Linked DNA regions of Homo sapiens. The protein of the gene in region 1 purifies or fractionates together with the protein of each later gene. This does not show direct contact. Each region holds a gene or a part of one and is shown in the gene's direction. Other genes may lie near its edges. The genes, in order: POMGNT2, FKBP14 and PECR.

The links.
Region 2: the proteins of POMGNT2 (region 1) and FKBP14 purify together in Homo sapiens (affinity purification with mass spectrometry; 2 studies listed by BioGRID and IntAct, with this or other methods). This does not show direct contact.
Region 3: the proteins of POMGNT2 (region 1) and PECR purify together in Homo sapiens (affinity purification with mass spectrometry; 2 studies listed by BioGRID and IntAct, with this or other methods). This does not show direct contact.

Annotation. Positions count from the first base shown.
Region 1 is NC_000003.12:43,095,593-43,103,339, reverse strand, and holds part of POMGNT2 (protein O-linked-mannose beta-1,4-N-acetylglucosaminyltransferase 2), read left to right. Parts: intron 1-7,747. UniProt on the Homo sapiens protein: O-linked mannose beta-1,4-N-acetylglucosaminyltransferase that transfers UDP-N-acetyl-D-glucosamine to the 4-position of the mannose to generate N-acetyl-D-glucosamine-beta-1,4-O-D-mannosylprotein.
Region 2 is NC_000007.14:30,016,477-30,024,223, reverse strand, and holds part of FKBP14 (peptidyl-prolyl cis-trans isomerase FKBP14 precursor), read left to right. Parts: intron 1-1,407; coding exon 1,408-1,559; intron 1,560-3,919; exon of another isoform or gene 3,920-4,011; intron 4,012-5,100; coding exon 5,101-5,228; intron 5,229-7,747. UniProt on the Homo sapiens protein: PPIase which accelerates the folding of proteins during protein synthesis. Has a preference for substrates containing 4-hydroxylproline modifications, including type III collagen. May also target type VI and type X collagens.
Region 3 is NC_000002.12:216,078,653-216,086,567, reverse strand, and holds the start of PECR (peroxisomal trans-2-enoyl-CoA reductase), read left to right. Parts: upstream 1-4,758; 5' UTR 4,759-4,769; coding exon of another isoform or gene 4,770-4,826; coding exon 4,827-4,950; intron 4,951-7,915. UniProt on the Homo sapiens protein: Participates in chain elongation of fatty acids. Catalyzes the reduction of trans-2-enoyl-CoAs of varying chain lengths from 6:1 to 16:1, having maximum activity with 10:1 CoA. Has no 2,4-dienoyl-CoA reductase activity.

The DNA of each region.
Region 1 (7,747 bases):
CTCTGAGCCTTATCTTTGCTTTGTGAGGGAGAGCAGCCCTTGAGCTGTGGATAAGGGAGGAGAAGGAGCCCTGGACTGAGAGCCAACATTCTGCCATTTTAATCCTGGCTGCCTGTGAGAGCTCACACTGCCTCTCCAGACCTCTTTTATGAAATAAAGAGTTGGAGGAAATCATTTCTAAGGGTTCTTGTAGCTCTAAAGGGCAGTGGTTTTGTAATTCTAAATTGATGGCCTAACCCTCTCAGCACAGTACCAGGGCACATGGGATAAATTATCACACTAGTATGTTACTTAGACTCTCCTTAGGGTGAGAGAATGGCCACAGCTCCCTAAGCCACCTGTCACAGCTGGGTACCCTCTGCCTGGCTGGGTGGGGAGGAATTACAGCAAGAAGCCTTGGGTTGCTAAGTTACAGTCCAGGGCCTGTGGTTCTACATTTCCAGGGCCACCACACCTGCTCTGCCCTTGACTAATAAAAACTCACTGCTCTACAGTCTACTCTGCTTATCTGCCATTGAGTGTTCCTCCAAGTCTGATGACAGATGAGCACGGTACTAAGAACAAGACCTTAGTGAGAGGCAGGTTCAAATCCTGGTGGCCCTTCTTGAGCTTTAAGACCTTAAGCAAGGTACTTAACTCCACTAAAACTTGGTTTTCTCATGTTAAAAGAAAATGGGGATAATATTGGTACTGCATTGGAGGGTGAGGCTTAAATGAAATAGGTCAGGAAAAAGGCTTAAGACAGCGCCTCTCGCATAGTAGGTGCTCAGTAAAGTAAGATGGTGAGACCATTCATCTTTATCCCCTACCCAGAGGCCAACATCCTTTTTTTCTTAGTTAACCTGGACAAGTCCTTTTGTTTTCTCTGGCTTCCCATGTCTGCACTGGTACATACTCCAGCACCTCTAAGAGAATCAGATCTTTCACTCTGCCAGTGGTGACTGCCATTGGTACAAGCTTATGCTACAAATTTATCTGTTTTCTCCATTCTGAAAAGGCTAAGAGAAGGCCCCTTCTTTGCTGTGTAGTTGCTCCTCAGCCCTGAGCTAAGCCTTAGGAAGGGACTGGGGACCTGGTCTGCTGTATTGCCACACCCAGTGATGAAACACACCCCGGGGTCCTTTGACAGTGGAGGTTTGTGGCAGGAATCATGGCACATCCTGGAGTGGCATCTGGAGTTGCCACAGTTGTGCTGGGTCCCAGAGCTTCCAAGAGAGTCACACAGTAGCCATTGTAAGGAACTGGAGATGCTGTCCAAATTTGCTCTGTTCAGGGGCTTCTTTCTCGGGGGACCTACCTCCTCTCTGCTGGCCTGCAGGGATGGCCATCTCCCTATGTCCTCTACTGGTGGCTGCTTTAGACCCAGACTCCATCCTTAGTCCATTTAGCTGTGGCCAAGAGACCTGGACTCGTTTCTTGCCACTCCCACACCACAAATGGTGCACTTTGTGTGGGAAGGAATGGGTTGGGGCAACTTGTCTCAAAAGGGAGCTTAGAGTCTGGCGGACTTCTCAGATTGTCCCAGAGCTTAGGCTTATGCATCATCTTAGCAAAAGGTAGGAACAGAATTTATTTAGCCTTTACTGATACTTATGGGGAGGGTTATTCTCAATTGAATTAGTTGTTTAACCTGGGCTAGATAGAAATGCCTTGCTGAGTATCGCAAAATTGTGAAATGTTAGAAGAACCTCAGAGCAGTTCCCCTCAGTATTGTGCACACGCAAGAATCACCTGGAAGCTTTATTAAGACACAAGTTCCTGGGTCCTCATCTCAGAGAGATTCTGGTTCTGCAGGTCTGAAGTGGGGCCCAGGATTCTGCATTTCTCAGATCCCAGGTGATACTGCTACAACAGGTCCACGGATCCACTGAGTCCTGCTTTGGAAGACACCATGGCCAGCCCTATCCCCGCTGTGGAGTAGTCCACATGGGTTGTTTTTGTTTTTTGCTAGACCACTTCCAGGCAGGGGCTCACTGCCCTACAAAGTAGCTGATTCCTCCATGCTCAAACAGCTCTAGTCTTTAGGAAAGTCTTCCTCCAACTGACCATGCTGAGCTCCACCTCCCCATGACTTCTTTTTGCAGTTCTTACTCTAGGTCCCTGAGCAGCTGGCACAGCTGTGCTGGGCAGGACAGAATGGGAATCATATGTGCCCATAGTCCACACTTGTGCCTAGGGCTTGGGTTGCACGTGTCACCATCATGCATGTGTGTCCAGTCAGGTAGAAGGGGTTGCATCCACTCCTCAGGAGCAGCCTCACTCTTGTGCAGCAACTCAGGTATTTGAAGACACCATGGGTGCAGGGGCTTCTTTTCTCCAGTAAAGTGGCCCTACTCCTTCTAGCATCCTACACAGTATAGGGGTTCTCAGTCCTTCCTCATCCTGGCTGCCCCAAGGTGAGTGTCCCAGAAAGACTCACATAGGGTGGGGTTGTATTAATGACTAATTGTACAGACTCTAATTCCTCACGAAAATGCATAACCTGAACCTAATCATGAGAAAACATCAGACATTGAGGAATATACTAGAAAATAGCTGGCCCTGACTCTTAAAAATTGTCAAGATCATAAGTTGAAGATAGACTGAGAAGCTACCCCAGATCGGAAGGGACTAGAGAGCGGTGATAACTGGATACCATGCTTCATCCTGGACTGGATTCTGGACCAGAAAATAGAAACCATATGTTAATAATAATATCATTGTCATTATAGTATCAATATTCATTTCGTTAATTTTTGTGGTGTGAGAGAATGTTTTCATTCTTAGAAAATACATGCTAAAGTATTGAGTGCTAAAGGGGCCTGATTTCTTCAACTTATTTACAAATGATTCAGAAAAGAGAGAGAATTTGTATACAGTTGCCCTCCTCAGGGAGACTTGTTCCGGGATCCCCCACAGATACCAGAATCCAAGGATGCTCAAGTGCCTGTTATAAAATGGTGTCATTATTTGCATATAACCTACACAATCCTCCTGTATACTTTAAGTCATCTCTAAATTCTTTATAATACCTAATACAATGTAAATGCTATGTAAATAGTTGTTATACTATATTGTTTTTAAATTGATACTTTTTTTGTATTTTTAAGTTTTTTTTGAATATTTTTGATCCACAGTTGGTTGAAGTCACATATGCAGAACCTGCAGATATAGAGGGCTGACTGCATATAGAGAGAATGATTAAACAAAGATGTCAAATTAGCAGTTGGTGAATCTGGGTAAGAGTGTAGGAGAGTTCTTTGTCCTATACATGCAACTTTTTTTGTAAATTTAAAATTATTTCCAGATAAAAAGAAGGAGATCGCAGACCCTGTAGCCAGCCTACCTGGGTTAGTCTTATCATTGCTTCCTCTGTAAACTTGGCTTTCTAACCTTTCTGAGCTTTGATTTTTACCATCTATAAAATAAAGATTATCATTGCAAAGTGAAGAATCTGGCACCTAGTGATTGGCCAGTAGATCTTAGCTATGATAATATCATTATTATTAGGAAAGGGAGGAGTTGAGGGTGACATGGTGGTAATGAGACCAAAGGAAAACTCAGCCTAATTCTGTCACCTCCTTCTGCTTGCTGATGTGGGATCTCAGGGTCCCTGGGTATCTGGCAGGGACCTGGCTGCCATAAAGCGTCACCCTGCAGAAGGCTTTGCAAGTAGTCACCTGAGCCCATAGGGCTCTACTGTTGAAACCCAGGTCTCCTGGCAGCTTTATCTCCTGCCTTCCCTGGCACTTCTGTGCCTGCCCCACAGCCTGGGCTCCCCGACCTTTACCTGTCTGGGTATGCAGTGCCCACTGAACTGCACATGGCTTTGGGCCTGGCCATCACTGCCCATGGCTTGGAGGCCTCATGGTTTGCTGGACATTTGTGAGAACTAGACAGTGATGCTTGCTGCAGACAGATTTGTAGCAGTCATGAGTAATTGGGACATGTAGACACATAACAGAGATGCTCATCTTATCCTCCATCACCACCAAAACACCTCCAAAAACTTGCTCAAAACTCACCCACCCTCCAGCCAGCTTCCCTGGATGATCTCTTGTTGTGCACACTTCCTCGTGTTTCTTTGTGAATGTTTTATGCTTCCTATACTGGGTGTTTTTGGCTCTCTTGATCAGTTCAACCCTCTCAAATTGGGCCTGAGGGTCCATCTGGATTTGTGTACACACTGGGGTCTGAGCATTCCCTGTAAGAATTGTTTTCATTTGATTTTGTAGTTCCACCTAGAAAACCTGGTGTAGGCGTGTTCTCCATTACCTTTGTGAGCCACACAACAGAGGTTCCCACCGTTCTGTTCCCTGTTTCATCCCCGTTTATGACCACACTGGTACACAGTGATGCCAGAGAGGACCAATACAGGCACATGTCACTTCCAGGTGACCCATTTGTGCTAAGCAAAAGCCAGATGACACGGCAGGCTGTGTGGCAAGCAAAGGTTTCTGCGTTATTTGGAGGCTGAAAACCGGTGAGAGGGTTGCATATGAGCTGGTGGAAGGCCGAACGTCCTGCCCCACACTCAAGCCTTGGTTTATCCTCAGCAAAGACTGACATCACCCTTCTCACCAAAGTAGTACAGACTTGAATTCTGTTGGAGTTTTTCCTGCTTTGAAGGGGTTCCTTTTCTATTGATAAGGCAATATAGTCACAGTCATCAGCTATTGATGGTGGATTAATGTCTCCAGCTTTGACTTTGCTTTGCTCTTTATTCTAAAGCAAGAAGATACTACCCATGTCAAAGTTTTAATCTAAGAAAGTGAGCCCTTAACTAAATGTTAAATATGCCTTGATAATTAAATGTGTTAAGTTTTACAAGAACCACTCAGACTGCCAAGATTTTGCCAAAGGATAAATACCTTGGTCAGAAAACCTGATCTATAAATGCCGAATTTATCAATAGCATTAGGTTAATATTTAATTTAGGAGCAAATGTAAGCATTATGTTATTAATACCAGTTCCATATACTACTTCAGATAACCAAAAAAAAAGGAGGGGGAAAGAGATCATTCTGAGGATAAGCTTGAGTTAGTGAAACATGTTTACTCCTTACTAATTTACAACATGTAAGACAACAAATCAATACAGGACTGAAAGCTTCCACAATCTAGCACTAGTACTTCAGGCTGCATTTAGGACAAAAACACTTTTCAGTGACAAAATAAGATTTCTATAATTTTCAATTGGAAGTGTGAACAATCCTTAAAAGTCAAATTGCTGTGAAAGTAAAATATAAAACCTTCTGCACCGTTGCTGACCCCCTCCTGGCCTGGGCCCTGCCTGATCTTCTGCAGCCTGGGTCTGGCAGGTGCTGGCTGTCTGGTCCCTCCACCTCTGTAACCCTTCTTGTGGAGGAGTGACCGGTGAGCTGCTGGTTCTGGCAGTCACAAAACTGGGAACCCGGGCACAGGCCATGGTGAGGCCAGCAGGACAGGGGATTTGCTTTAGACCAGAGCTTGCAAATGAGCATCCGTTTTTAACTGGCAACCATGAGGCCAGCAGCCCCAGGCCTTGGTGCACGTTGTCTTCACTCAATTTGAATAATTGCCAGAAGTTACAAATGAGGACATTTCACATTTTAAATAGATTTTTGCTTCTCTGGGAAAATCAGAAGAGTATTGCTATGGACTGAATCATGTTCCCCCCATTTATATGTTGAAGATCTAACCCCCCTGTGATTGTGTTTAGAGATAGATCATCCTAATAATGAAGCTTAAATGAGGTCATAAGGGTGGGGCCCTAATCTGATAGGACTGGTGTCCTTATAAGAAGAGGAAAAGAGATCAGAGTGTTTCTCTCTCTCCCCACCTCCCTCTCCCGGCTTCCTTTCTCCCTCCCTTTCCCCCTTGCTCACCTGCCCCTCTCCTCCCTCCCCACCACACAGAGAAGAGGCCATCTACAAGCCAGGAAGAGAAGCCTCACCAGAAACCAACCCTGACAGATCTGTGAGAAAATTCTGTCATTTAAGGCACTCAGTCTGGTATTCTGTTATGGGAGCCCAAGCAGACTGATACAGATAGGTACCACCAGGCTGCTTTCCCGCCATTCTCTCATCAGCTGGCATTAGGTGTTCTGTCTCCAGGTCACACAGCCCACCCTCAGCTTTACTTTCTCCATTGGCTCCGGCCCTAGCAGGCATGTGAGTGTGCACCTCCTACTCTGGGCCCAGAATTCCTGGAGCTTTTACTCCTTATCAAACCTTAAAGCCCTTATGGGCTTTTCTGTGCCCGTGTCTGGGGCTGGCCAGGGCCCCCAGAAGTACAGCCTGCACCCAGCACCAATGACCACCCTCACGTGGTGAGCTCCCCAAGGCAAGTGGCCCCACCCCACCTGCCCAGCTGTTACTGGGGTCTGCAGTTGCAACAGCATTTTTGACATTATCCTCTGATGCTCGGAACAGCTGGGATCCTAGAAAGGAGGATTCACTAAGTCTGGGGATCTGATAACATTTAACTGCTCTTGGGAGCTTAGTAAAGTGGTTTGGGGGAGTGAATTGGTAGCTTCCTCCTGTCTGCCTCAGTTTCTAAAGGGATTTTCTAGGCATGTTTTTAATCTCTTGTTGATTTCTTTTTTCTCTTTCTTTTGAAAAAATTTTTGTTTTATCATGCTTTGTCCTGGCTGAGCCACTAAGCCCTTTGTTCCCCACTCCAGTTGGTCTCTAAATTTGGTGCCCAATATAGAGGAGGCAGAGGCAGATAAACATGGTGGTGTTGAAGTACCCTGGTCTGTGTGGCCCTGGAATGCCAAGAAGGTGAGGTCCAAATGGTGCCTGGGCTATTAACATAAGACAGTGCTTAGAATCCATGTTCAGATCCTGCCTCCATTCTGTACATGCTGAGGGACTTGGACACATTTACTTAGCTTCTCCCAGCCTCTGTGTCCCAATCTATAAAATGGAGTAATAGAAATAGTGTTAGCCTCTTAATGTTGGTTTGAAGATTGAATGAGAAAATATACCTACAGTGTTCAGTATACTGCCTGGAACATAAAGTGTTAGAGGCTGGTGATTTTGAGTGTGTTTTTCAAGGTAAGAGTGGGTTCATATTTAATAGTTGTTGGTAATCTGGGAATCAGTTTCAGGTGCCGATTGGATCCTTGGTAGCAGGATGGGATGGGAGGTACAGCACGGGAATCAGCTGCTGGTCCCAGAGCAGTGGAGGGGCCAAAACTCCGCTTAGGGCACGAGTAAGAGGAGTGATAGGAAGAGGCAGCTTTTCCTAGTTTGATTACCTCCGCTTTTCTAAAGGAAAGCAAACAAATAAGGATCAAGGTTGTTGGGTCCCCTTTGAATCCCTTTTGTCTCCTTCAAGAGTTTCACCACTGAGCACTGTGATCACATCCACCCAGCATTCACTCATCTTCCCTTCTCCCTGCCCCATAGCCTGATGACTTTCAGCTGGTCAGCCAGTGGCATTCTCTGGTCATTGTCATGGGTCCAGGAGGGGACTGGGCTGCAAAGTAGGGTGGGATGTGCGTGCCCTTATTTGGGCTCGCTCCTCCCTGATTGAGTTCTCTGAATGTCTGAGGTGTTTCTTTCTCTTCTCTGCCCCTTGCCCCACTTTAATGAAGACTGGATCTTCTGTATCTTGAGGGTGGTTTTCAACACAGTCTTTAGAGTCCAAGAACACTAGGTTAAGACCTAAGCTTCACACCTGTTGTAACCTTGGGCAAGTCACTCAACCTCCTCAACCTCCGGTTCCTCATCTAAAAATAGGGAATAATGATACTTCATAGGGTTGGGGCTAGTACATAGAG
Region 2 (7,747 bases), on another chromosome or scaffold:
CTTTGATCATTGGGCAAAATTACAGGAAAAAATGGCATTACCCAGATTTAGTAACCATGGTACTCATGAAGCGTAGTACAGTGACTTCTTTTTCTCACCTACAAGATATCCTTGAATAGAATATTTTCCTTATTGCACTGAAAGGGAGCTAGGTAGGGATCAGGCATTACTCAGCCCTTAAGCCTCCCTGTATGTAGTTCGGCAGGTTGGTTTTCCTAGGCTAGACTCTCTTCAACTCATGAGCCAGGACATTCTATTTCCCTCGTCCCCAGTTGATAGGGTTCCGCTATGGCCCCACCCAATTCTCATCTTAAATTGTAGCTACCATAATCCCCACATGTTGTGGAAGGGACCTGGTGGGAGGTAATCGAATCATGAGGGCAGGTTTTTCCCATGCTGTTCTCCTTGTGATAGTAAATAAGTCTCACGAGATCTGATGGTTTTATAAAAGGCAGCTCCTCTGCACACTCATTCTTGCCTGCTACCATGTAAGACGTGCCTTTGCTCCTCCTTTGCCTTCCGCCATGATTGTGAGACCTCCCCAGCCATGTGGAACCGCGAGTCCATTAAACCTCCTTTTCTTTATAAGTTACCCAGTCTTGAATATTTCTTCATAGCAGTATGAAAATGGACTAACACACCAGTCCTTGAGGGGCTACTCTTCCAGACTTTCCTATATAGCCCCACTGTAGACCCCTGAGGAGGAAACTGGGCTAGGGTCTGAGTGGGGATTTAGGGATGAAAAGCAGCCTTTTCTACCCGTCAGAGCCATCAGCAGGCCATAGCTAAGGCAAGTTTGTAGGCAGGATATAAGACACTGTGCTTCTCACTCTTCATATCTGTGTGCATATGGACCCACATATGTTGGCAGTAAATTCTCCTTAGCCTTTCAATCTCCTTCCCAAACTCAGCCATTTTTCCATTATTTTCTCCTTGTTCTGCAACCTAGTGGCCTTCCTGGGACAACATAACTTTGTGATTAAGACCTTGAACTTTGGAGTTAGGTTTAAAGACTGGAACTTAACCTGTGTTTCCTCATCTGTGCAATGGGGTAGTAATGGTACTTATATTATAGACTTATTGTAAGGGTTAAGAGGCAAAAAATAAAATAAAATTTAGAATAATTCCTGGTATACAACAAATGTTCAAATGGTTGTTGTTTTTATTATTTCCTCTGTCTTTCTTAAGCCCAGTCAAGTATGTGAAATTTGCATCAAGAAAGATGGGCAGTGAATTGAATTCCTATAAACTTGACTTGGAGGTGTGTGTGTATGTGTGCAAATACAGAATTGCTGTATTTATAAATTTTTAAACTAATAAACTTAACCACTTACTGGTGGGAAAATGCACTAAAGAAAATTTTTTAGAGTTAATAAGGAGTTCTAATGTGTTTTATTTCTATCATAGTCACAAACATAACAATGGTCAGCCCATTTGGTTTACCCTGGGCATCCTGGAGGCTCTCAAAGGTTGGGACCAGGGCTTGAAAGGAATGTGTGTAGGAGAGAAGAGAAAGCTCATCATTCCTCCTGCTCTGGGCTATGGAAAAGAAGGAAAAGGTAATAGTATTTCTGTATTTTTCTTACTATAGCACTAGAGTTGTTCTCTGGATTAGGAGACAGAAGTTAGAGTCACTATAACTTTTTTTTTTCCCCTGGAAGTTAATAGGGGGTATGTATTCCTTTAGCAACTGTATTATGTCTTGAGTATCAATTGAAATGGCCAGTTTAAGGCCGTAATGTCTAAATGGGCAACTATGCTAACAATAAAAAAAGAACATTGAGGTCTATTAATACTGTTCACAAATATGGTGGGTTGTTTTAATTGTGATAAAATATACATAAAATTTTTCATTTGAACCATTTTTAAGTACACAGTTCAGTGGCATTAAATACATTCATGTTATTGTGGAACCATCACCACTATCCATCTTCAGAATGTTCTCATCTTCCCAAACTGAAACTCACCAATTTACTTTAACAATGCAGAGAGAAAGATCCATTAACGTAAGTGTTTGGATGAGTTGAACATGTGAAATATAGATTATTAAAGTATTGAATGCATTTTAGATGTGGGTTATATATGGGTTGTACTTCATGAATATTAAGTCTCCCACAGCAAACTGGGAGTTCTTTTCATTCCCGTTTTTAAATTTATTTATAAAGTTTTTAACAATGTATTTAAAAAAAATCATAGAGTGACATGAAATGAATTTAATTCTCCCTGTGTCACAAAGCAGAAGCAAGCTGGCTAGCTGGTCCGGACAGCTTTTGTACTAGTTTTTCAGGGCAGACACATATCCTGCTGTTCAAGTGAGAACCCCTGCAACTTTCCAAAGAGCTGCTTTGTGATATATATCAAGAGGTCTGGGCCAGGCATGGTGGCTCACACCTGTAATCCCAGCACTTTGGGAGGCCAAGGAGGGTGGATCACTTGAGGTCAGGAGTTTGAGACCGACGTGGCCAACATGGTGAAACCCTGTCTCTACTAAAAATACAAAATTAGCTGAACGTAGTGGAGTGCACCTATAATCCCAGTTACTTAGGAGGCTGAGGCAGGAGAATTGCTTGAACATGTGAGGCAGAGGTTGCAATGAGCCAAGAACGTGCCACTATACTCCAGCCTGGGGGACAGAGCCAAACTCCATCTCAAAAAAAAAAAAAGAGGTCTGAAGATGTCTATATGCATTTATTCTATAATTCCTTCAAACCTAAGGGAATAATTAGATATCAGGAAAAAAATTTGTGAACAGGGATGTCCATAATTGCATTGTTTCTAAGCAAAAAATTGGAACTGTCGTAAGTGGTATACTGGTAAGAATTTAGCTAAATAAAATATGGCCCAGTTATTTAAAATGGCATTTCCAAAGAGTTTAAAAATTATATCTGAAATGCATGAGATACAGTATTATATATAAAAGTAGAAAATAAACCTATAGTATATATGATAGTAAATATAGGAAAAGGTACATATACATAGAAAGTTAATCATAAGGAAATAAATAAGAATGTTAAAAATGGACTGTGATACTGGGAATCATATTTATTTCTGGTTTTATCATCCAAGTATGTGCTCTACAATGAGCATGTATTACTTACATAATGAAGAAAAAAAAGTTTAAGTAGTCATCAGAACCAGACAGACAACTACTCTGATATAGTATAAATATAGACTTCATAGCATCCTGAAGTCTAAGGTTAACCACTGACAAAAGTGAGGAGTCAGGATTCACAGCCCATTTCCTGAGAAGGAAAATAGATGCCATATGGCAAGCATTATATATTCCAAAATATACAAATCTATACAAATCTTGTTCATAGGATAAGATTAACTAACCAAATTCAATTCTTCTTTTAGTCATAATCCTCTTTAGAGAAGAAAACCAAGTATCTAGAAAATTTTTTCTGATGCTGAGAATGTTTTCATTTTATCTTTATTGTCTCACCTTTAATATTTACATACAGTAGTTCCCCTTTACCTGTGGTTTCACTTTCTACCGTTTTAGTTACCTGTGGTCAACTGCAGTCTGAAAATATTAAGGTATTTTGAGAATGAGAGACAGATTGCATTCATATAACTTTTATTATGATATGTTGTTGTAATTGTTCTATTTTATTATTTTTAATCTGTTACTATGACTATTTTATAAATTAAACTTTATCACAGATATGCATGTATAGGAAAAAGCATTGTATGTATGGGGTTTGGTACTATCCATGGTTTCAGGCATCTAATGGGATTCTTGGGACATATCCCAGTGGGGACTACTGTACGTTGTATTAGTCCATTACTCTTTCTCATACTATATTTAACTCAAGTTTACTTCACAATAAGTAGAGATCTAAATTTGAGTCATTTCCTTCAAACTGAATGCCATGAAACTAATTTTTCTAATCTGTATTTAACACTAATTTTGTAGTCTTTTAGTACATGCTTGCATGCCTCTTTTGGAAAGATACCAGTTTTATCAACAACCTAGCGCATGTCACATCTCTGTCTAGATCTGAAATGGTAAGCTTCAGCACACTTTATAAGTCTTCTCTTTGGAATTTATGAATGTTCTTTCATGGAAATATGTGGGATGGGGGGAGGATGACTAAGAAATATTTAACATGTTTACACAGACCTGTATGTTAAATATAGTTATAAGGAAACAAGTTTGAGAAAAACAATTGTCCATACTCCACAGATGGGTGTGTTTGTTTGTTTGTTTGTTTGTTTCAGGTTCCTGGGATTTTAACAAAGCTCTTTTCACTTTTAAAGATTTTTAATTTCCCTTCTCAGAAATTCATTTTAATTTCTCCCCTCCCATGAAATGTCTTCAACATATATATAATGTTCTATATCAGAGGTAGTGTTTCCTAACTTTCTGAAATTGTTAAACCTTCCTGCATTATTTTTAAAGCCTGTGAGAAAATTATACCTCAATAACATGTATTGAGAGTTTACTATTTGTCAAGTTTAATGCTAAGTATTTTGCATGGATTTTTCTCCCTTTATCCTCCCAACAGACTCCTGAGGAGGAAATTTATTATCTGCATTTTATAGATGAGGAAATTGAGGCTTAGAGATGGGCAAATGTAAACTTCAGCCTCAGACAGTGTGACACCAGAGCTTACTCAATTATATGGGTAGAAATGCCTTCTAGTGGTAGAAATGGCAATACTGTATGTATTTCTAGGTCAGGACTTTCTGACCAAAAAGTTAGTTTATTACTTTTAATATACTTAACTCCGAATTATCTAAAACCCTTCAAGTCCTTCTTGACATATAATATGTAATATATTAATTATATTAGAAATGTAATACCTAAGCCATTAGGTACATCTCTATGTATGTATATGCATTGTGTGTATGTGTATTTACATTTTAATTGCTAAGCCAAAGATAGAATGCTTTTGCTCTGCTAGTGTATATTATTTCTTCTTTTACTCTATTCTATTCGAGTAAAATATAATATACATAATTTTCATCATATATGACAATCTTAGGAAGGCTCTTTAATTCAGTTAAAAAAAATACTTTGTCCATTACCATAAATTTTCTATTATTAAAACTTTTGGCTCTTTTAAAACTTTCTGCCTTCTTTCCTCACGTCAGGTAAAATTCCCCCAGAAAGTACACTGATATTTAATATTGATCTCCTGGAGATTCGAAATGGACCAAGATCCCATGAATCATTCCAAGAAATGGATCTTAATGATGACTGGAAACTCTCTAAAGATGAGGTGACCTTTCCTTCTTCCTACTCCTCTTTCTACTTTTCTTTGGTTGTTTGGGGTTTTGTTTTGTTTTGTTTTTGTAACTCACTTTTTAAATGAATATGTGTATATTTCAAATCTACTTTTATTTAGGTAACATTTATTTATAAGTTTTCTTAAAATACTGATGCTTTGAAAGTGGACTTTTTCATAGTGAATCACTGTTTTGGAGAGAAATATATTAAGACTTAAAAAGCACCATTCAATCTTTTGCTTTTTTCTTCCCAATGCTTAGGGTTCACTGTATCTTATGCTTACCCTTGGGTCTTTGAAAGAACAATTTTGCCAAGACAGTTTCCATCTGGAGTTACTGTATAAGAAGCTAGCTGTCCTGAGAAATATCTCATGTGGACAGTTTCTGTTAAAACTGTAGACTGGCTGTTAAATACATCTTGTAGTGTTTTCCTGGCAATTAACAGCAAGCAACTTACATGCTCTGTTTTGTTCAGGTTGCCCCAGAGAAAAGAGACCCCAGCCTGGGTTTTACACAGCAGGGCTCCAGCCCCATCAAAATCTGAGCCTTTGGGTAAAGAGAAAGGAAGAAGAGGCTTCTCCTTATAATTCGGCCATTGCTACACATACCTGTCTTAGTCTGGCTGCTGCGGGGAAAGAAGTGGAGGGAGATATTTATTCCTGTTTTTTATCTACTCACACTCCATTCTGTCCTGACTGGTCAGATATCAAGTCCCTTTCTATGCTTTGATCAAATTCATTCTAATGGCCAGGAAATGATTAAGTCTTGAATAAGCCAAATTGTTACGAACCAGGGGTTCATGATCCACAGCCACTAAATTTATAACACCTCATAGTATTACCAGTCACATGCCTTTTTCTTCCATCCAAGATAAATTTTAATTCCCTTTCATTAAATAATTTTGAATATATAACACAGTCACATGGTTCAAAACAAAAATCTATTTATTTATTTATTTATTTATTTATTTATTTATTTATTTATTTATTTCCTGAGAGGGAGTCTTGCTCTGTTGCCCAGCCTGGAGTGCAGTGGCAAAATCTCGGCTCACTGCAACCTCTGCCTCCTGGGTTCAAGCAATTCTGCCTCAGCCTCCCAAGTAGCTGCACCATCATGCCTGGCTGATTTTTGTATTTTTAGTAGAGATGGGGTTTCACCATATTGGCCAGGCTGGTCTCAAACTCCTGACCTCGTGATCTGCCCACCTCGGCCTTCCAAAGTGCTGGGATTACAGACGTGAACCACTGTGCCCAGCAGAAAGATATTTATTTAAAAGTCTTAGCTGGGTGAGGTGGCTCACACTTGTAATCCTACCACTTTGGAAGGCTGAGGCAGGAAGATTGCTTGAGGCTGAGACTTCAAGACCAACCTGGCCAACATAGGAAGACTTTATCTCTATTATTTACTGTTTTTTTTTTTTTTAGACGGAATCTCACTCTGTTGCCAGGCTGGATTGCAGTGGTGCGATCTCAGCTCACTGCAGCCTCTGTGTCCCGGGTTCAAGCGATTCTCCTGCCTCGGCCTGCCAGGTAGCTGGGACTACAGGTGCACGCCACCATACCCAGCTAATTGTCGTATTTTTAATAGAGACAGGGTTTCACCATGTTGGCCAGGATGGTTTCAAGCTCCTGACTTTGTGATCCGCCTGCCTTGGCCTCCCAAAGTGCTGGGATTACAGGTGTGAGCTACCGCATCCGGCCTATTATTTACATATTTTTAAAAGTCTTTCTCCTACCTACATCCTCTTCTATTCTATTATCCCCACATCCAGTTTTATTAATTACTTTTTTCTTTCTTTCTGTTTTTTTTTTTGTAGAGATGAGGTCTCGCTATGTACAAGCATGCACCATTGCACCCGGCTTAGTTTTATTAGTTTCTAATATATCCTTTCAGTGTTTCTTTCTGCAAATCCAAATACATAGTCTTATTTCCCCCTTTCTTACACAAAAAGAAGCAAACTATACATGCTGTTTTGTCGTTTTGCTTTATTCACACAATATATCCTAGAAATACATTCTACATTAATCCATAGAGTTTAATGGATTAATGGATCTCTCCCCCACCCCTTTTTTTAACAACTGCATTAAATCACTTTAACTTAAAAATAAATATATACTATATGTGTACTTCTTGAAAGCTGGGGGAGAGAGGATTTGAAATTGCTGGTCTAAACAGAAGGAAGAGAGGTGATATAATTAAAACTGAAAATATAGGCTGATTTTCATTGTGGTGAATCTTGTGGGAAATTGAAAACAATATTTATATTTTTAAATATCTGAATGAAATGAAAATGGAGTCCGGGCATGGTGGCTCACACCTGTAATCCCAGCACTTTGGGAGGCCAAGGCAGGCAAATCTTCTGAGGTCAGGAGTTCGAGGCCAGCCTGGCCAACTTGGTGAAACCCTGTCTCTACTAAAAATACAAAAATTAGCCAGGCATGGTGGCAGGTGCCTGTAATCCCAGCTACTAGGGAGTCTGAGGCAGGTGAATCGCTTGAACCTGGGAGTTGGA
Region 3 (7,915 bases), on another chromosome or scaffold:
CTGTAAGTATTTGATCTGAGAAGCAGGTTCTAAACATTTCTCCTTCCTTTTAGATTTCACAAGAGAGAGGTTAAAAGAAAATTTTACCCAATTTCCAAGGCTTTAATCAATAGACTTGAGAGAAGAGAGAGGACTTTGTTCTTTTCTCTGGCAGTTAAGCTGTGCCCATCTTCCACTTCCACTTCCAGTCTAAAGATTATTAACAGGCTGGTCACGGTGGCTCATGCCTGTAATTCCAGCACTTAGGGAGGCCGAGGCAGGTGGATCACTTGAGATCAGGAGTTTGAGACCAACTTGGCCAACATGGTGAAACCCCCTCTACTAAAAATACAAAAATTAGCCAGGCATGGTGGCACACACCTGTAATCTCAGCTACTCCGGAGGCTGAGGTAGGAGAATCGCTTGAACCCGGGAGGCAGAGGTTGCAGTGAGCCAAGATCACACCACCGCACTCCAGCCGGGGCAACAGAGTGAGACTCTGCCTCAGAAAAAAAAAAAGATTCTTACAAATGTGATATTACAGAGTGTTAGCTTCAATCAACCATTAGCTCTGTACTCTTGGTCATTGTAGGAGGGAAAACAGGTTTTTAAGAACATGCTCATACTCTGGAACTCGTGCTTAGAATAACTGCTTTTAAGCCACTCTTGAAAAAAATTATCCAGATAATTCTTTTTTTGTTTTTGTTTTTTTTTTTTGAGATGGAGTTTCACTCTTGTTGCCTTGGCTGGAGTGCAATGGCGTGATCTCAGCTCACCACAACTTCTGCCTCCTGGGTTTAAGCGATTCTCCTGCCTCAGCCTTCTGAGAAGCTGGGATTACAGGCATGCACAACCATGCCCAGTTAATTTTGTATTTTTTAGTAGAGAAGGGGTTTCTCCATGTTGGTCAGGCTGGTCTCGAACTCCCAACCTCAGGTGATCCGCCCGCCTTGGCCTCCCAAAGTGCTGGGATTACAGGCGTGAGCCACTGCTCCCGGCCCAGATAATTCTTAAATTCATCCACCCAACTTTCCCATCTCCACTGCTTCCCCTCTGGTCTAGGAGGCCACTGTCTCTTAACTGTGGTTCTAAAAAAAATGCTCCTATCTTCCAGCTTCCACTCTTGCTGCCTTCCAATCAATTCCTCACTCAGCAGTAAGCAACATCTTTTACTTAATTTTTTTAATTTTTTGAGACAGAGTCTCACTCTGTCACCCAGGCTGGACTGCAGTGGCACAATCTCAGCTTCCTGCAACCCCCACCTCCCCCACCTGATTCTCCTACCGAGTAGATGAGATTACAGGCGTGTGCCACCACACCCGGCTAATTTTTGTATTTTTAGTAGAGATGGGGTTTCACCTCCCAAAGTGCTGGGATTCCAGGCATGAGCCACCCAGCCAGAAACATCTTTTTAAAACATAAAGAAAATCAGATGGTCAGGCGTGGCAGCGCGCACCTGTCGTCTCAGCTTCTCGGAAGGCTGAGGCAGGAGAATTGTTTGAACCTGGGAGGCAGAGGCTGCAGTGAGCCGAGATCGCTGCCACTGCACTCCAGCCTGGGATACAGAGCCAGACTCCATGTCAAATAAATAAATAAAAATAAAAAAGAAAATCAGGCTGTTTTCTGCTTAAAATCCTCCTGTAACTTCCTACTGTTATACATGTGGAAGTCCATGTGGCCTAAGGACCTCCCCATCCTGCCACCCCATCTGTACCACCATAGTAGGGGTACTATGCTCCAATCACACTGGCTGTGTATTTCTTCCTCAAGAGCACCAAATGCTTCCAAATGCTTGAGGTCTTCTTAACTGCTGTCTATCTTGCTGCTCTGCTGCTCCACCCCGCCTCTTCCTGTGCCCGTTTTTGTTTTTTTGAGTCCTTGTTCAAATGTTTCCTCCTCTGAGCCCTTCTTGACACCCGAACTAAAAACTTGACTCCCTGCTCTGCCTCTCATTATTCTTTATCACAACAGCTTGTTTCCTGTGTAAGGCTTACCAACATTTGTCATTATTTATTTTTCTTTTACTTATTTATTGCATAGCTCTTCTACTAGACTTCAAGCCCTATGAAGTGGTACCATAGAAGTAGGCCAACAAATAGATGCTCGATAAATCTTTTTAAGTGACTGGGTGAAGTGGTAGCAACTCAGGAGTAGCTTATTTTTTGTGAAAGCCTGAGACTAAGGAGAAGTTTAATAAAAAGACATCAATAAGCTCCTTTATATGCCTTGTTATGGCACAATTGCTAGGTAGTTTTGCTTCAAGGTAGGGGCAGGACCAGATGCTTCACTGACATTCTCTCAGCACTGAGATTCTGGGAGTCTAAATGTCGAGAATCCCACAAGCCCCTGTCAGTCTGAGCTAGCAGCTGCTTTGCAGAGGGGAGAAAATAAAGTTACCAGGCAGATGGGGTGGGGGAGGGGTGGGAAGCTGAAGGCAGTCATTGCTAATGGGGTATGACAGAGCTGTGGGGAGAGGTTCGGGGGTGTGGGAGGACCTTGGCCACAGGAATGCCTTTTTCCCCAGGACAAAGAGGGCAGTGACGCAGAGCACAGGGAAGAGCAGCATTTGATTCAACCAAAGGAGTGGTCAGTGCAGCATGGCGTGGTTGCCTTCGGAAGAGATGCCTCAACCAGAGGCAGAACTAAAATTTCAAAACAAAGAGCTTCCAAGCAGCAGATCTATTGCTCTGCTTCCAGGCCTTTTGGCCTGGAACTTAGCGGATTAGTGGACTTTCAAACCCTGACAGAGGTCAGAGGCAGAGGCAAAGAGATCATGCCTCCTAATTTTAAACAAAAGATCGCTTGAAGAGACCCCAAAGCTCTCTTAATTGCAGGTTCTGCCTGGATCATGAAAAATCGCCTTCTGACTGTTCATCCTGCAACTTCCTTGCAGCTGAGGAATGGCACCTTGTCATCCTCAGTAGGCATAACCGGTTTGCAGGCCCCAGTCCCTGTTTCACTGGAAGACATCAGAATCCCACTCTCAGTCCGCTCAGCAGCCACACGGAAGCTGCAGCACAGCCAGCTTCCCACTGACCCACCCTGGCACACCTCTAAGAATCTATAGGTCCAGACCAGGGCATAAATCATGTTAAGTTATATCTTCAATAAAGTTATCATTTAAAAGAATTTAAAGTGTCCCCACCCACAAGAAAGAAAGTCTGGACTTCTCTTGAATAAGATACCCCTCAGAACTGAATCAATATTTCTTTTCCTTAAAAAAAAACACCTTGTCATTGGGATCAAACCAAGAGGAGTTATATGTTTCTGCAACAACACTTTGAGCTTTCCTGTTTGAATTTACTTTGTTTTAAAGGAGGTGATGGCGTTGTAATTTTAAAAATTTGGTCCTAACTACAGAATTGACTTAAGTAGTAGAGTTAAGTGATTCCTGGATAAACTATCTAGCAAATGGTAACCAGGAGATTTATTCCTTTCTTTAACGAGTGTAGATTTGAATCTGTCAGCAACAAAGATAGAGGGAGAAGTGATTCTAAAAAGAGATCAGAGAAGGACAAGAGGATGGAGCAACAGGGAAGTGTAGCTGTCCAACAAGAACTGCAGCCTCGCTGGTGGGTGGGACCTGGTGGAGGAAGTGATGGTCTGATTCCTCTGTCAACCAGACCCATTTCCAATTGGCTTTGTGAATCCTAGGTGGTAGGTCCAACAAAAGGATGATGGCATTTATTTGCCTTTATATTATTTTAATACCTGTCCGGGGAAAATGCAACACTCTGACAACAGCCTTAGAAATAGCATCCCATCTGGATTGTTAAGACCACAGCAACTGGCACATTCGACCAAGTTCTTAGGGTGAAGTCTCAGTAGGCCAGTCCAGGTGTAATCTCACTCTGGTGGGTTCAGAGCGGGAAGCAAGATGAAAAATAAGGAGCAGATCTGAATAATAAATCACTGTTACTGGGCACCATAACACAGACGAGAAATTTTCCCCATCCTCAGCGGGCTCACCCTCCTGCACAAGGAATGAACTACAGGACATGATCTCAAACACCTACAGATGCATCTTGCAGGAAGCGTGCACCCTTCAAGGAAAGATCCTCTTCTGGACTCGCTATGCAGCTCAGCTGAAATGGATCAGGTCTCAAACCTGGTAAAGATGATCTTTCCCCTTGATTCTTGGGTGGGGAGTGGGAGGTGAGACGGAGGTGGGCCTGAGTTTATTTTTTCAAATCGTTTATTCTCTTGGTTCTGTGGAAAACTGCAACCGCATCTCCTCTTCCCCTTCACTCTCTTTCCCGGGCTCCCTCCCGAAGGATGAAAGGATCTGAAAGCCGCATTTCTCCCCCTCAGCTAAGCCTGCCCTTTCTCCCCTTCCCAGCCAGCGGCACACAGCACCTGGAGCCACAGCATCGCCGACGTCCGACCCCGGCAGGCGGGCGCAGCGAGGGCGCCGAGCAGCAGCCTTTCTTTTTCCAGCTGCACTGGAGATTTAATTTTAATTAATCGTGAGAGCTTCAGCCCTGAGGATTGAATTTTTGAAATAGAGCACACCCTGCTTGTTTCTTTCTTCTTCTTTTTTTTTTTTTGCATTTCCCTTCCACCCTCCCCAATGGCATCGAAATTTAAAGAAACGAACGAGCAGTCTCACCCACACCTGCCCAGGGACCGACGCTGGCGGAGGTTGCGGACAGCCGGCGGGGAGCGGTTCTGCTCCGGGAGGATGCGGCTTTGCCGCGGCCGGCGGGCGGGGCGGGGCCGGGCCGGGGAGGGTGCGGGGTTCTGGTGGTCACGTGGGCTCGAGCACCGCCCTGTCCGCCCGCCCGCCTCGAATGTCCCTGAGACCCAGAAGGGCCTGCGCTCAGCTGCTCTGGCACCCCGCTGCAGGGATGGCCTCCTGGGCTAAGGGCAGGAGCTACCTGGCGCCTGGTTTGCTGCAGGGCCAAGTGGCCATCGTCACCGGCGGGGCCACGGGCATCGGAAAAGCCATCGTGAAGGAGCTCCTGGAGCTGGGTACGTGAGCGGGCCGCTGGTGCAGAGAGGTGGCTGTGGTGACCTGGGGTAACCTGGAGACGGGAGCCAGGAGCTCTCGGCGGGGCTGAGGGAGTGTGGAGCTGCAGAGCAAAGACGGGGCAGGTGTGGGCGAAATTACGACCACCAGGGAGACAGAAGAGAGCAGCTCTTCCTAAGGAATTGTGGAGCCACTCGTTAAAAACTGAAGAGACCACTCAGGCCAAAGAGACTGTGCCCCAGGTAGGCAGTAAGAAGAGCAGTGAAACATGCTGTGCAATTAGTTTTATATTCAGATTTAAAATTAATCCATTCTATATGCTTAATGTGAGTGATTAGGAAACGTGGGAAGACTTCATTTAACTGGAAAAAGTTGTGAACATAGTGAGTCTCTCATAGTATCTTCTCACATCTCTTAACCACAGCAAGGAAATATGCTGAATATTTACCTTAACTTGGGTGAAGGAAGGCCTTTGTAAACACATAAGTGAGGGAATAAACCACAAAGGAGAACATAAATCAATCTACCTGTATGAAAGTGTAAATCCTCATTGAATTAAAAAAATATATAAAGTTTAAAGGCATATGAAGAAAAATATTTGCAACATAAGATAAATTGTTTGTTGGTTTTGAGATAGGGTCTCACTCTGTTGCCTACGCTGGTCTCGAACACCTGGGTTCAAGGGATCCTCCTGCCTTGCCTCTGAGTCCTAAAGTTTTGGGATTACAGGCTGAGCCACTAGATTCGGCCAACAGCCTTATACATAAAGAGCTCTTACAAATAAAGAAAAAATCCAACACACTGATAGAAAAATTAGACTAATGGTATGGACTAAGCGTTCCAAAAGAAGAACTACAGACAGGCAAGAAACATATGAAAAAATAATCAACTTTATTGGTAATAAAATATGAAACAGTAAGATTTAACTTTTCTAACAAAATTTTGAAATGTTGGGAAAAATTAAAGTGTTGATGCAGGAATGAGAAGGCAGGAATGTAAATTATTACAAACTTTCTGGAAGGCAATTTGGAAAAAAAGATCCAAAAACCTTCACAATGTTTATGCTCTATGACAGTAATTCCTTTTTCAGGAATTTAAGGAAACGGAGTCAAGCAAAGATTTTCATGCAAGGATGTAGTCTTGAGTAGTGAAAAAATGGAAATTACCTAAAAATCCAATATAAGGAAAATAGTTAAATCAATAACAATGAAATATAATGCTTCCGTTTAAATATCTTGCTATTGGTCCTGGCGCAGTGGCTCACGCCTGTAATTCCAGCACTTTGAGAGGCCGAGGCGGGCAGATAACCTGAGGTCAGGAGTTTGAGACCAGCCTGGCCAACATGGTGAAACTCCATTTCTACTAAAAATACAAACCAGGCATGGTGGCGTACACCTGTAGTCCCAGCTACTTGGGAGGTTGAGGCGCAAGAATCGCTTGAACCTGGGAGGCAGAGGTTGCAATGAGCTGACGTCAAGCCACTGCACTCCAGCCTGGGCAACAGAGCGAGATTCCATCTCAATAAATAAATAAATATCTTGCTATTGAAGACTTACTTGGAGAAATGCATACCATATTATTGGGAAAAGTAGAATTCTAAACCTAATAGCATTCCAATTTTACTTTTTTTTTTTTTTTGAGATGGAGTTTCGCTCTTGTTGCCCAGGCTGGAGTGCAGTGGCGCCATCTTGGCTCACTGCAACCTCCGCCTCCTGGGTTCAAGCGATTCTCCTGCCTCAGCCTCCCGAGTAGTTGGGATTACAGGCACGCACTACCTTGCTAGGCTAATTTTGTATTTTTAGTAGAGATGGGGTTTCTATATGTTGGTCAGGCTGGTCTCCAACTCCCGACCTCAGGTGATCCGCCCGCCTCGGCCTCCCAAAGTACTGGGATTACAGGCGTAAGCCACCGTGCCCGGCCCAATTTTACTTTTAATAAAATATATACATGCAGGGCCGGGCACGGTGGCTCATGCCTGTAATCCCAGCACTTTGGGAGGCCGAGGCGGGCAGAGCACAAGGTCAAGAGTTCGAGACTAGCCTGGGAAAACATGGTGAAACCTCGTCTCTACTAAGAATACAAAAATTAGCCAGGCATGGTGGCGTGTGCCTGTAATCCCAGCTACTCAGGAGGCTGAGGCAGGAGAATGGCGTGAACCCGGGAGGCAGAGGTTTCAGTGAGCCAAGATCGTGCCGCTGCACTCCAGCCTGGGCGACAGAGCAAGACTCAGTATCAAAAAAAAAAAAAAGTATTACATATGCAAAAATGGACTGGAAGGAAGTTTATAAGATTTTTAGCCATTTTTCTGAAAATAATGTTAATTATGAGTAATTAAAATTGTCTTCGTCTTTTAAATATTTTTTAATGAACATCTAAATTATCTTTGGTTACGACTGTGTTTCCAACATCTGGCACAGTATGAACTAAAAAAAAAAAATCTATGTTTTTAGTTAAAAAAAAAAAAAAAAGCAAAAACATTTCCTAGTAAGGCCATGATGTAACCTCATCACCATTACTGCCCAGTTTATTCTCAACACCAAGCTCTATCCTCTTTCAGGAATATCTGTAAGAAAATCAGAATCAGTTATCAATTCATGCATAGGTCAGATACTAGGCTTCTCAGCAGATTCGTAGGACCCTAGTCCACTTTGAAGGATTTTTAATAGATTTTTATGTATTTGAACTTTCATCCTGTTGCATAAGTGTGCTATTTGAACTTTCATCCTGTTGCATAAGTGTGCTATTTGAACTTTCATCCTGTTGCATAAATATGCATTGGCCAAAAACTACACCCCTGGAATAAGGTGATAGACTATATTTTTCTTACCACAAACTAAAACATTAGGACATTGGTCTTGTAATCTTTTGGAAGACATGAATCTGTCTGAGATTCTGATGAAAGTGGTGGCGTGTCTTTTGAGAAAAAGACATCATATACTTAAAAATATATATACACAATTATTTTGT